Homo sapiens: one gene and its partners. The protein of the gene in region 3 interacts with the protein of the main gene of each other region in a pairwise test. Each region holds a gene or a part of one and is shown on either strand. Other genes may lie near its edges.

Evidence for each region.
Region 1: the proteins of ASPH (region 3) and PDGFA interact in binary tests that used the Homo sapiens proteins (3 or more experiments, as listed by UniProt).
Region 2: the proteins of ASPH (region 3) and SCGB1C2 interact in binary tests that used the Homo sapiens proteins (3 or more experiments, as listed by UniProt).

The regions. Positions count from the first base shown.
Region 1 is NC_000007.14:509,720-513,370, forward strand, and holds part of PDGFA (platelet-derived growth factor subunit A isoform 2 preproprotein), read right to left. Parts: intron 2,737-3,651; coding exon 2,632-2,736; intron 1,278-2,631; coding exon 1,090-1,277; intron 1-1,089.
Region 2 is NC_000017.11:135,973-139,622, reverse strand, and holds SCGB1C2 (secretoglobin family 1C member 2 precursor), read right to left. Parts: upstream 2,055-3,650; 5' UTR 2,033-2,054; coding exon 1,978-2,032; intron 1,421-1,977; coding exon 1,221-1,420; intron 714-1,220; coding exon 681-713; 3' UTR 556-680; downstream 1-555.
Region 3 is NC_000008.11:61,505,031-61,508,681, reverse strand, and holds part of ASPH (aspartyl/asparaginyl beta-hydroxylase), read left to right. Parts: intron 1-3,651.

The DNA of each region.
Region 1 (3,651 bases), on a different chromosome or scaffold from region 3:
AACACGGCTCCAGCGGAGACACAGTCTGCCGGCGCCCTGATCTTGGACTTCCAGCCTCCAGAACTTTGAGAAATACATTTGTTGCTAATCAGCTCCTAGTGGATGGAATTCTGCTAAAGCAGCCTGAAGAAGGCAGGCACCACCCCCAACTTAAAGAAAGAGGGGCTCACCCTGGGATTCTATGGAAGGAAGTCTGCTGTCTGGCCTCGAGCCCACCCCAAGCACTCCTTCTCCTTCTCCTGGGCTGCTTTAGGGGGGAAGCCGGGGGGGCCCTCCAAAGGTCAGGCACTTCAAAAGGCAATGCAGGCTCTGAATATCCACCCCCTACTCCTCCTGCCATGCACCTCGGCCCCCACTGAAGAGCCCGCACAGGACCCTCCAGGGCCCGGGGACGCCAGACAGCTTCCGGCTAAGCAGCTCGACACCTCGCAAGGCCCAAAACGGCCCCCGCACTGTGGTCTAGGGCGTGGAAAGGAGGCCAGGCTCGTCGCCAGAGCAGCAGAGCAGAAGCCCCGGCCGGCCCTGCCTTTCCCGCACCCCCAGGTGCTCCTTCTCCTCCCTGGGCCTCAGTGTACCTGCCAGGGAGATGGGAGCGCAGCCGTGCACCCCCACCAGCCACACCAGGGGCACCTTGTGGCCTCCCAGGAGGGACCCTGGCAACCCAGTAGGGGCGACCCTCAGGCCTGCGTGGGGCAGGGCTCACCTGGATGCTGCAGTGTTGGATGCGTGAGGGACCCTGGCTGCTTGGTAGGGGCGGCCCCGGGCTCGGGTGGGGAGGGGAGGGGAGGGGCAGGGCTCACCTTGACGCTGCGGTGGTGGACGCGGGAGGGACCCTGGCTGCTAGGTAGGGGCGGCCCTTGGGCTCGGGTGGGGAGGGGAGGGGAGGGGAGGGGAGAGGAGGGGAGGGGCAGGGCTCACCTTGACGCTGTGGTGGTGGATGCAGGAGGGACCCTGGCTGCTTGGTAGGGGCGGCCCCGGGCTTGGGTGGGGAGGGGAGGGGAGGGGAGAGGAGGGGAGGGGAGAGGAGAGGAGGGGAGGGGAGAGGAGAGGAGGGGAGGGGAGGGGAGGGGAGGGGAGGGGAGGGCTCACCTTGACGCTGCGGTGGTGGACGCGGGAGGGCTGGCACTTGACACTGCTCGTGTTGCAGCAGCCGGTGCAGCGTTTCACCTCCACGCACGGGGGCCAGATCAGGAAGTTGGCGGACGTGGGGTCGACCTGACTCCGAGGAATCTCGTAAATGACCGTCCTGGTCTTGCAGACAGCGGGGACAGCTTCCTCTGCAACGGCGGGGGCACAGTGAGCGGGGACCGGCCTCTGCGACCACGGCCCCACCCCAGGGCTGAGGCGGCTCCAGCTGGGCCTGGGGGGCAACCAGGGTAAGCCACAGGCCAGGATTCCTCCCAGGCAGCAGAGGCTGAGCTGGGAGCAGAGGCTTAGGGGCTGGGTGGGCAGGAGCACCACACATCCAGAGGAGCCCAGCCCGGTGCCTGCAGGCTGGAGGGACCTGGACAGGTGGGGCCAGTGGCTCGGAGGGGAGGGGAACTTAGTCCAGGTGGGGCCAGTGGCTGGGGGTGGGGAGAGGGGAACTTAGTCCAGGTGGGGCCAGAGACTGGGGGTGGGGAGAGGGGAACCTAGTCCAGGTGGGGCCAGAGACTGGGGGTGGCAGGGGCAGAGGGGAACCTAGTCCAGGTGGGGCCAGTGGCTGGGGGAGGAGGGGGCCTTAACAGTGAATCCTACAGCACTTGCTGCATGCTCTAGCCTTCAAAAGTGGTCTGAAGGGTGCAAAATGCAGACCCCACAGCAAATGTCACCTGGGGAGGGCCTGCTTGCATCAGCTGGGACTAGCCAGCCACACATGACACTTTAAGGTGGAAGATACAAAATCCATCTTCATGGAGGAAACCACAGCTCAGAGAGGGGGGTCCACCTGCTCAGGGCCCCAGAGCCATGAGCAGCACCAGGGCTCAAACCCATCAGGTGGGACCCCCGAGGACGCGGGACTTGGGTAGAAAGCAGGGACTGGCCCCTGAACTCCCCAAACCTGCTAGTTCCTCCTCAGGGGGCTGGAGGGCCATGGGGCTGTCCTGTAAGAAGGGACAAAATATCCCCCAAATGGACGCGGGGGTGGAGCCCTGGAGCCAGGTGTGAGTGGGGCGGGGCACACGGGTGTGGTGAGGGTGTCGGGGGGCAGCCGCCGGACACAGCACGCGCGTCCCCACCAGTTCAGCAGCCGGCGCAGGAGCACGATGCCCACACTGCGAATTGGAAATTAGGCGCGACCACGTTTCCGGCAAGGCTCCTGGGGACAGGCCCCGACAAGACAGGGCGCTTAAGGAATTTATGATGGCTCTTCTCTCCTGGAAGCTCTCTTGGCCCAGACCAGGACTCCAGGAGGAGCAGGCGGGCTGGGGCAGGAGACACCCTCGAAGGAGGGAGGCCTCGGGAGAGGCCAGAGCCAGAGGCACCAGGGCCAGGCCTATTTTAGGGAGGAGGGAACGGGTGGCTTGCCTGAGGCCACTGCGCTGGGAGAGCGGGCAGCTCCTCCCCACCCGGCCCTGCCCTGCCCATCGCGGCCTCCTGGACTCACCCTGACCCGGCCCTGCCCTGCCCATCGCGGCCTCCTGGACTCACCGATGCTTCTCTTCCTCCGAATGGGCAGGGGCCGCTTCTCGGGCACATGCTTAGTGGCATGGACCCCGTGAGCTCTCAGGCTGGTGTCCAAAGAATCCTCACTCCCTGCAGGCGGAAGGAGAACACCGTGAATGCCCCAGGCCCGTGCGCTGTGCCCTGGGCCTGTCCAGCCGCACTTCCCACAGACCAGCTTTGGGAGCCACTGGGGAACAGGCACCTGGCGGCACAGCCCCTCACAGCTCCCGCCATTAGGGGCCCTCCAGGAGAACCTCGATTCCCACCAGGGCTTTCCAGAGATGCAGGGCATGAAACACTGGAAACCGCAGAAAACGCCCCGTTAGCACAGAGGTCCCCACATTCAGGGGCCCGTGACGAAGCGCAGGGCCCTTCGGGGAAGAGGTTGCAGGTGGTCTCCCCTACGGTGCCTCCTCCAAGGTAGCCCAGGTGAGGGCTGCCCCGGGGCAGGAGGGGCCTGAGGCCGCCCAGCTCCGTGCACCTCCCCGAGGGGCACAGGGCTAAGCCAGGCCCCACCTCTGTCTGGGGGCTGGAGCGAGGGAGAAGCAGAGGCCGCTGAGATTTCTGCAGGTGCCTGTACGTCTCCCTCCCTCCCCCTCACTAAAGCACTCCTGGAAGAAGTGGCCTAACCTCTGAGGGGCACTGGAAGCCGCCAGACTGGGCTGCGGGCCAGACCCCACTCATTCCTGAAATGAGTCTACTCTAGGGCCAGCGGCCATGAGGAGAGGCAGGAGGGCACGTGGCCTCTCGTGGAGGCTACACGGAGGAGTTCCCGCAGCCTGACAGAGGGAGGCGGCCTGCGGAGAGGGGTTGAGAGAAGCTGGCATCTGCGAGCCGTGTTTACAGCCAGGCGGCCAGGTGCAGGTGGGGCAGTGGCCCAGAGCCAAGACCAGCACTGACCGGGGAGCAGAACTGAGAACCTATCCCCGCCACCCCACCCAGCTGCACACACCACCCCTTCACAGGCGCTGACGGCTACAGCAGACAGGCTGGGGGAGTCTCAGG
Region 2 (3,650 bases), on a different chromosome or scaffold from region 3:
TCGCACTTGTGCTTCTTGAGTGGGATCCTCTGTATGTGGGTCTGTGTGTGTGGCTGTGGCCCTGAGTGTGTTCCTGATGTCCCCATTTGTGTGCCCCTCTGTGGGGACTTTCGCACGTGTGCTCCTTGAGTGGGATCCTCTGTGTGTGGGTCTGTGTGTGTGGCTGTGGCCCTGTGTTCCTGATGTCCCCACTTGTGTGCCCCTCTGTGGGGACTTTCGCATGTGTGCTCCTTGAGTGGGATCCTCTGTGTGTGGGTCTGTGTGTGTGGCTGTGGCCCTGTGTTCCTGATGTCCCCATTTGTGTGTCCCTCTGTGGGGGACTTTCGCACGTGTGCTCCTTGAGTAGGATCCTCTGTATGTGGGTCTGTGTGTGTGGCTGTGGCCCTGTGTTCCTGATGTCCCCATTTGTGTGTCCCTCTGTGGGGACTTTTGCACGTGTGCTCCTTGAGTGGGATCCTCTGTATGTGGGTCTGTGTGTGTGGCTGTGGCCTCGAGTGTGTTCCTGATGTCCCCATTTGTGTGCCCCTCTGTGGGGGCAGAGACAGGAGCCTGAGCTGCGGAAGAGGCTTTATTGATTAAACGGTTTGAGGATACATTTCCATGTGGGAGGTGGTAGTGGGCGTTGTGTCCACGGCTGCTTGTGTGGCAGGTCCTATGGCTGAGCCATGTCTGAGGTCCACTTAGGCACCGTCCTGACTGCCCAGCACTTGCACCTGGAAGGCAGACACATGTGGACTAAGAGGGCTGTGCTCAATAAGTGGAGAGCCACAGCTCCATCAGGCAAGCAAGGCCCTCAGTGGGGGGGGGGTCTGGCATATTGCTGCCTATCTCCTCCCAGCAGCTGGGAGGTGTGTGTGCACATGTGATGGTGTGCACACATGTATGTGTGTGCATATCCCAGTGTGAGCATGTGGGTGTGAACGTGTTTATACATGTGTGCACGCAGTGTACATTTCATGTCTGCACCTGTGTTTGGATCTCTGTGTATGTTCACATGTGTGCATGGAGGAGTATCCCACAGACTGGGGAGGAGGTCTATGGAGTCTGGGGGCTGCTCGGTGGACAGGAGGTCTGGGGTGTCCACCTGAGCTGGCTGATGCGGGTGCAATGTCTGTGGGTGGTGGATGTCTGTGGGTGGGGTAGGCTGTGTGGGTGCTGTGTTGGGTGGTCTTGGTAAGGCTGCAGATCTTTAGAAAATGGGGTGCCCGCCGCCCTCATACCAGCAGCTTGACCAGCTCCGCCTTGTGCATTGGCTGCAGGCCATCTCTGCAGGACTTGAGTTCAGTCATTGCTGCCTTGGCATCTTCGTTGACATTGTACTTGCCCAAGGTCCCCTCATAGAGCTCCTCTGGGGTCCCCACCAGTAGTGTTTGCAGGAAGTCCATGAAAAACTCATCGTTGTCCTCCCCCGTGGCCATCCCTGCATCACGAGCGAGATGATGCCAGGACAGGACAGGGTGACTCTGGTGCAACCACAGCCCTGGACCTGCCCCAGGGCTCTAACCTCCATGGTCTCCAGACCTTCCCCTTCAATGCTCACCTCTCCTCCCCAGGGCTTCCTCCACAACACCTCCAACTCCACCTTGCCCGAAGACCCCTCCACATCCCCCTTAATCTTAGCTGCTCCAATTTCCACTCAGCATTCCCTGGGATCACCAGGGAAGGAAAGTTAAGCTCCTGGTGTGGGGGAAATTTCCCCTGATGAGAGGCTATTATGACCAGAGGCTTGAAGGGTCAGGTCAGGCTGGACTGGGCTGGGGTAGGAGACACTGGGCTGGTGTTGGGTCAGCTGGGCTTTGTCCTTGGTTGGGGTGGAGTAGGGTGGGCGCGGGTTCTGCAGGGTCCTTGCCCACTTCTGTGACAGAAGCAGGTGGAGTGTTCACTGCAGAGGCCCGATGCCAGGATTTTACCTTCTCAGGTACCCCCCACTCCCCCCCGCCCCTGAATGTTCTGGAAACCCCAGTGGCACAGACTCACGGCAGATGCAGAACAGGGTGAGGGCCACCAGCAGGAGGGCACGGCTCCCCTTCATGCCGGCAGTCTCAGGAGCTGCCTCCAGCCAGAATCCCGGGATTTTATGCCTCACCGGACAGCACCTCTCCTAGAGGGCGGACCGGACCTGCCCATTAGGACCCGGCAGCCAGCTTAGATGAGGTTTGTTCACATCCCTGGCCCCCAGTGGGTGCCAAGCAGCAACAGGCATGGAGTGGCTGTGTGACAGGTGGTTGGCAAGCGGCTTTAGGGTGTGTGAGAGAGAGAACAGGTGTGTTAGGAGGGAACACTGGTGAGAGGCCATGCCAACTGATCGGTGAAGAAGGCAGTGGGTCCTGGCCACCAAGGGCCTCTAGTCATGCCTGCCCTTGAGGCCGAGAGTGGTGGGATCTGGGGTTGGTCCCACGCCTTTCTTTTAAGGTGGGAATCCCTCCTCTTATCAGTGTGCTGTGTGATCTGGGTCTGCATCTGGGGGTCTCCAATCAGGCAGGGGCCCCTTACTACTCAGATGGGGTGGCCGAGTAGGGGAAGGGGGTGCAGGCTGCACGAGTGGACACAGCTGTAGGACTACCTGGGGGCTGTGGATCTATGGGGTGGGGAGAAGCCCAGTGACAGTGCCTAGAAGAGAGAAGGTGGCCTGAGAGGGTCTGAGGAACATAGAGCTGGCCATGTTGGGGCCAGGTCTCAGCAGGAAGTGAGGAATGGGACAGGCTTGAGGTACATCTTCCATCAGTAGCCAGGATAGCAAGGAGAGGTTGAAGGCCCTGGGGGAGATGGTCCCAGGACATATTACAATGGACACAGGAGGTTGGGACACCTGGAGTCACCAAACAAAACCATGCCAAGAGAGACCATGAGTAGGGGTGTCCCAGTCCAGCCCTCTGACTGAGCTGCATTGTTCAAATCCAAAGGGCCCCTGCTGCCACCTAGTGGCTGATGGCATCCACATGACCCTGGGCCACACGCGTTTAGGGTCTCTGTGAAGACCAAGATCCTTGTTACATTGAACGACTCCTAAATGAGCAGAGATTTCCACCTATTCGAAACAATCACATAAAATCCCATCCTGGAAAAAGCCTGGGGGATGGCACTAAGGCTAGGGATAGGGTGGGATGAAGATTATAGTTACAGTAAGGGGTTTAGGGTTAGGGATCAATGTTGGTTAGGAGTCAGGGATACAGTAGGGTCACCGGTAAGGGTTAGGGGTTAGGGGTAGGGGTTAGGGTTAGGGTTAGGGTTAGGGTTAGGGTTAGGGGTTAGGGGTTAGGGTTAGGGTTAGGGTTAGGGTTAGGGTTAGGGGTTAGGGGTTAGGGTTAGGGTTAGGGTTAGGGTTGGTTAGGGGTTAGGGGTTAGGGTTAGGGTTAGGTTTTGGGGTGGCGTATTTTGGTCTTATATGCTGTGTTCCACTGGCAATGAAAAGAGTTCTTGTTTTTCCTTCAGCAATTTGTCATTTTTAAAAGAGTTTAGCAATTCTAACAGATATAGACCAGCTGTGCTATCTCATTGTGGTTTTCAATTGTAACCACATTGTGGTTTCAATGTGTTTACTTGCCATCTGTAGATCTTCTTTGGTGAGGTGTCTGTTCAGATGTGTGTGCATTTTTAGTTGGGCTGTTTAACTTATTGTTTAGTTTTAATAATTTTTTATATATTTTGAA
Region 3 (3,651 bases):
CAGACATCTGAACCTGTTTCCATGTGATTCCTTTGCGTGAAAATCACAGTCATGTCCTTTGCCTATCTCAGAACATTTTAGCAAAGATAGCTAAGATATTATCTATAAAATTTGTAGGTAGAAGACTCTATAAGCACCTAGTATCATTACTTAGCCTTATTAATATCAATGGTAATTCTGTGACCAAATTATAGTTATTAAATATGCACTGCCACCATTTTATCATTATCATTATTTATAATTATAATAATTTGAGAAGTTGACAGATTATGGAATACTGTTTTATCTTAGGACGAGATATTCTTATATCTTTTGACAACCCAGAGAGAGACTTTCTTCTCTTAGTGGTAAGAAATTCTAACAGAAGGCCAGGAACAGTGGCTCACACCTGTAATCCCAACTCTTTGAGAGGCCAAAGCAGGAGAATTGTTTGAGCCCAGGAGTTGGAGAGCAGCCTGGGCAACATGGGGAAACCCCATCTCTACAAAAAAATCCAAAAATTAGCTGGATGTGGTGGCACATACCTGTAGTCCTAGGTACTCGGGAGACTGAGGTGGGAGGATCACCTGAGCCTGGGAGGCGGAGGCTGCATTGAGCTGTGATGGTGCCACCACACTCCAGCCTGGGTGACAGAGCAAATCCTGTCTTGAAAAAAATAAAGGGTTAGGTGGGAGGAGAGAAAGAGAGAGAGGAAGGGAAGGAGGAAGTTCCAACAGTGAGCCAAGCTTCCAGGGATGGAGAGCAGTGCCCACCCCCAATGCTGCTTCTCTGGGTCCTTAGACAAGGCTGTAACAGTACTTCCAGGCAGACCTCTGTCACAGGCCGCTCTGAAGATTGTTTCTCCAAAGGGCTGATTGTATGTCGTAATTCGAGTGTAACTTAATCTTATTTGATGGAGCTTTGTTCACAAAGCAAGTGGCCTGAAAACTAGTTCTTTGCATTCTAATGAGAGTCTTTGGTTTTCAGTCAGAAGCGATTTGACATCTTTATGCTCCTCTCCCTTTGTTGTGGAAAAAAAACATCCTTTCCCAAGCATGTGATACATCTCGAATTTAACCTGGAGTCACTTAAGTCTGGACATGGCTTGTAGGATGTTTTATTGTTCTTCATTTTCCCCTTTTAGGTGAATCGTGACTACAGTTTTAGTCATTCTATCTCTAATAACTGATTGAAAGACACCATTTTTTTAAGAATTCAGAAGAAATCTACATTAAAAAATCTACATTATGTTATTGACTATCTTTGCTATTTTCTGGGGAAATGTATGAAAGAAAGTGGAAGGGCAAATAAGTCCGACAGCACTCACTTTCCCCATAGAGTTTTATGACCCTGAAACAGGCCAATTAACAACCCTTTGGTATACCTCCCCAAATTTCTTATTTATACAATTGGTTAATTAATGGTTTACACTGATCTGTATTGTACTTAATGTATCTGGAAAGCTGCAAGCCTGTGGTTCTTAAGTTCTACTTTTATATGCACTGATGTTCCATGAGTGACCAGCGTGTTCCGGTGCTAATAACTTTTCCCAGTTCTCAGGAATTTAATTTAATGAATGGAATGCTTAAGGCCTTTTTCCCAGAAAACAATTCTAGATCTTTGGCTTTGTTATACGTATCATAATCTAGTGAAAAATGTCATTTTGTGTGGGCTAGAATTTTCTATTCAGTTATTTTAATTACTTCTAGTGTTTTAAGTAGTTTCCAGGTTCTCTGCCACCCAAAAAACTTTGAAAATCACTTGTCATTGCTGTACAAACTACATTTCACAGATGCTCTGAAGATGTTTTTATATCTCATCTCCCTTGGAAGTTTTTAGTTGTCTCAAAGGAAGGCAGACAACATCATAAAGAGTGATGCATATGTCATTTTTGATAACATACCACTTCCCAACATTTCACCTCTGTCTTTTATCTTTTCCCTATTTTTCTTTATATTTTCATTTTTCTGTCATTAATTGAATATCTACTATTGCCAATCATATGCTAATCCTCACATCAATTATGCCGATGAAGACACAAAGAATCAATTATGCTAAGTAGCTCACCTTAGGTCCCATAAGTAATAAATGCCAAGGTCAAGAGGATTCCCCTCAAAGACCATAAATTTCCATCTTCCTGTATTGCTTCTTTCTTTCTCCTCTACCACATGCTCTCCTTTGCCTTTCCCTTTTTTCTCTATTTAATTGTAGTAAAATACACATAACAAAATTTACCATATTATCCATTTTTAGGTGTGCAGTTTAGTGACATTAAGTACATCCATATTGTATAACCATCAACATGATCTATCCTCAAAACTCTTTCTAACTTGCAAAACTGAAACTATACCCATTAAATAACTCCCATTCCCGTCCTCCCACCGGCCACTGGCAACCACTCTTCTCCTTTCTCTCTCTGTGAATTTAACTACTAGTCTAGGACCTCAGATGTGTAGAATCAACTAGTAATTATCTTTTTGTGTCTGGCTTATTTTACTTGACATAATGTCCTCTGAGTTCATACATGTTGTAGCATGTGTCAAAATTTCCTTCCTTTTTAAGGCTGAATTAATATTCCATTGTATGTGTATACCACATTTTGTTTGTCTGTTCATTCACTGATAGATACGTGGGTGGCTCTCACCTTCTAGCTGTTGTGAATAGTGCTGCTGTGAACATAGGTGCACTGCCTTTCATTTTGAGTACACTTCCTCCCTCATCTTCTACATAAATTATAGGCTCGTTTGTGGTACCCACTGACATTGCTTAATCCCGGTGACAACACTGAGACCTAGAAAATGCCTGCCTAACTGTGGAAGCTGTGGACTGTTTCACTGATTTTTCTTGTCAGCGTATTTCCCCGCCTTGGTTTTGCCTTTCTTCTCAAGTTAGATTTTGCATGGTAATGAATGCATATTCTGTCATTTTCTCCTAAGTCCATAGATTTCTGTCTTTTGCTACCCTTGATGGAACTCCAATGGAACTCTAAAAACCTTCAGAGGAGTTGTAGAAGAGCCAATCAACATGTGTGTGTTGAATGCAAGAGATGAGGCAAGGTGTATTAGTCCGTTTTCATGCAGCTGATAAAGACATACCTGAGACTGAGAAGAAAAAGAAGTTTAATTGCACTTACAGTTCCACATGGCTGGGGAGGACTCAGAATCATGGTGGGAGGCAAAAGGCACTTCTTTTTTTTTTTTTTTTTTTTTGAGATGGAGTCTTGCTCTGTCACTCAGTCTGGAGCACAGTGGCATGATCTCAGCTCACTGCAACCTCTGCCTCCCAGGTTCAAGCAATTTCCTGCCTCAGCCTCCTGAGTAGCTGGGATTACAGGCATGCGCTACCACGCCTGGCTAATTTTTGTATTTTTAGTGGAGATGGGGGTTTCACCATGTTGGCCAGGCTGGCCTCGAACCCCTGACCTTGTGATCCACTGTCCTCAGCCTCCCAAAGTGCTGAGATTACAGGCGTGAGCCACCGCATCCAGCTGAAAGGCACTTCTTACCTGGTGGCGGCAAGAGAAAATAAGGAAGATGCAAAAGCGGGAACCCCTGATGAAACCATCAGATCTCATGATACTTATTCACTATGATGAGGACAGTATGGGGGAAGCTGCCCCCATGATTCAAATTATCTCTCATCGGGTCCTTCCCACAGCATGTGGGAATTATG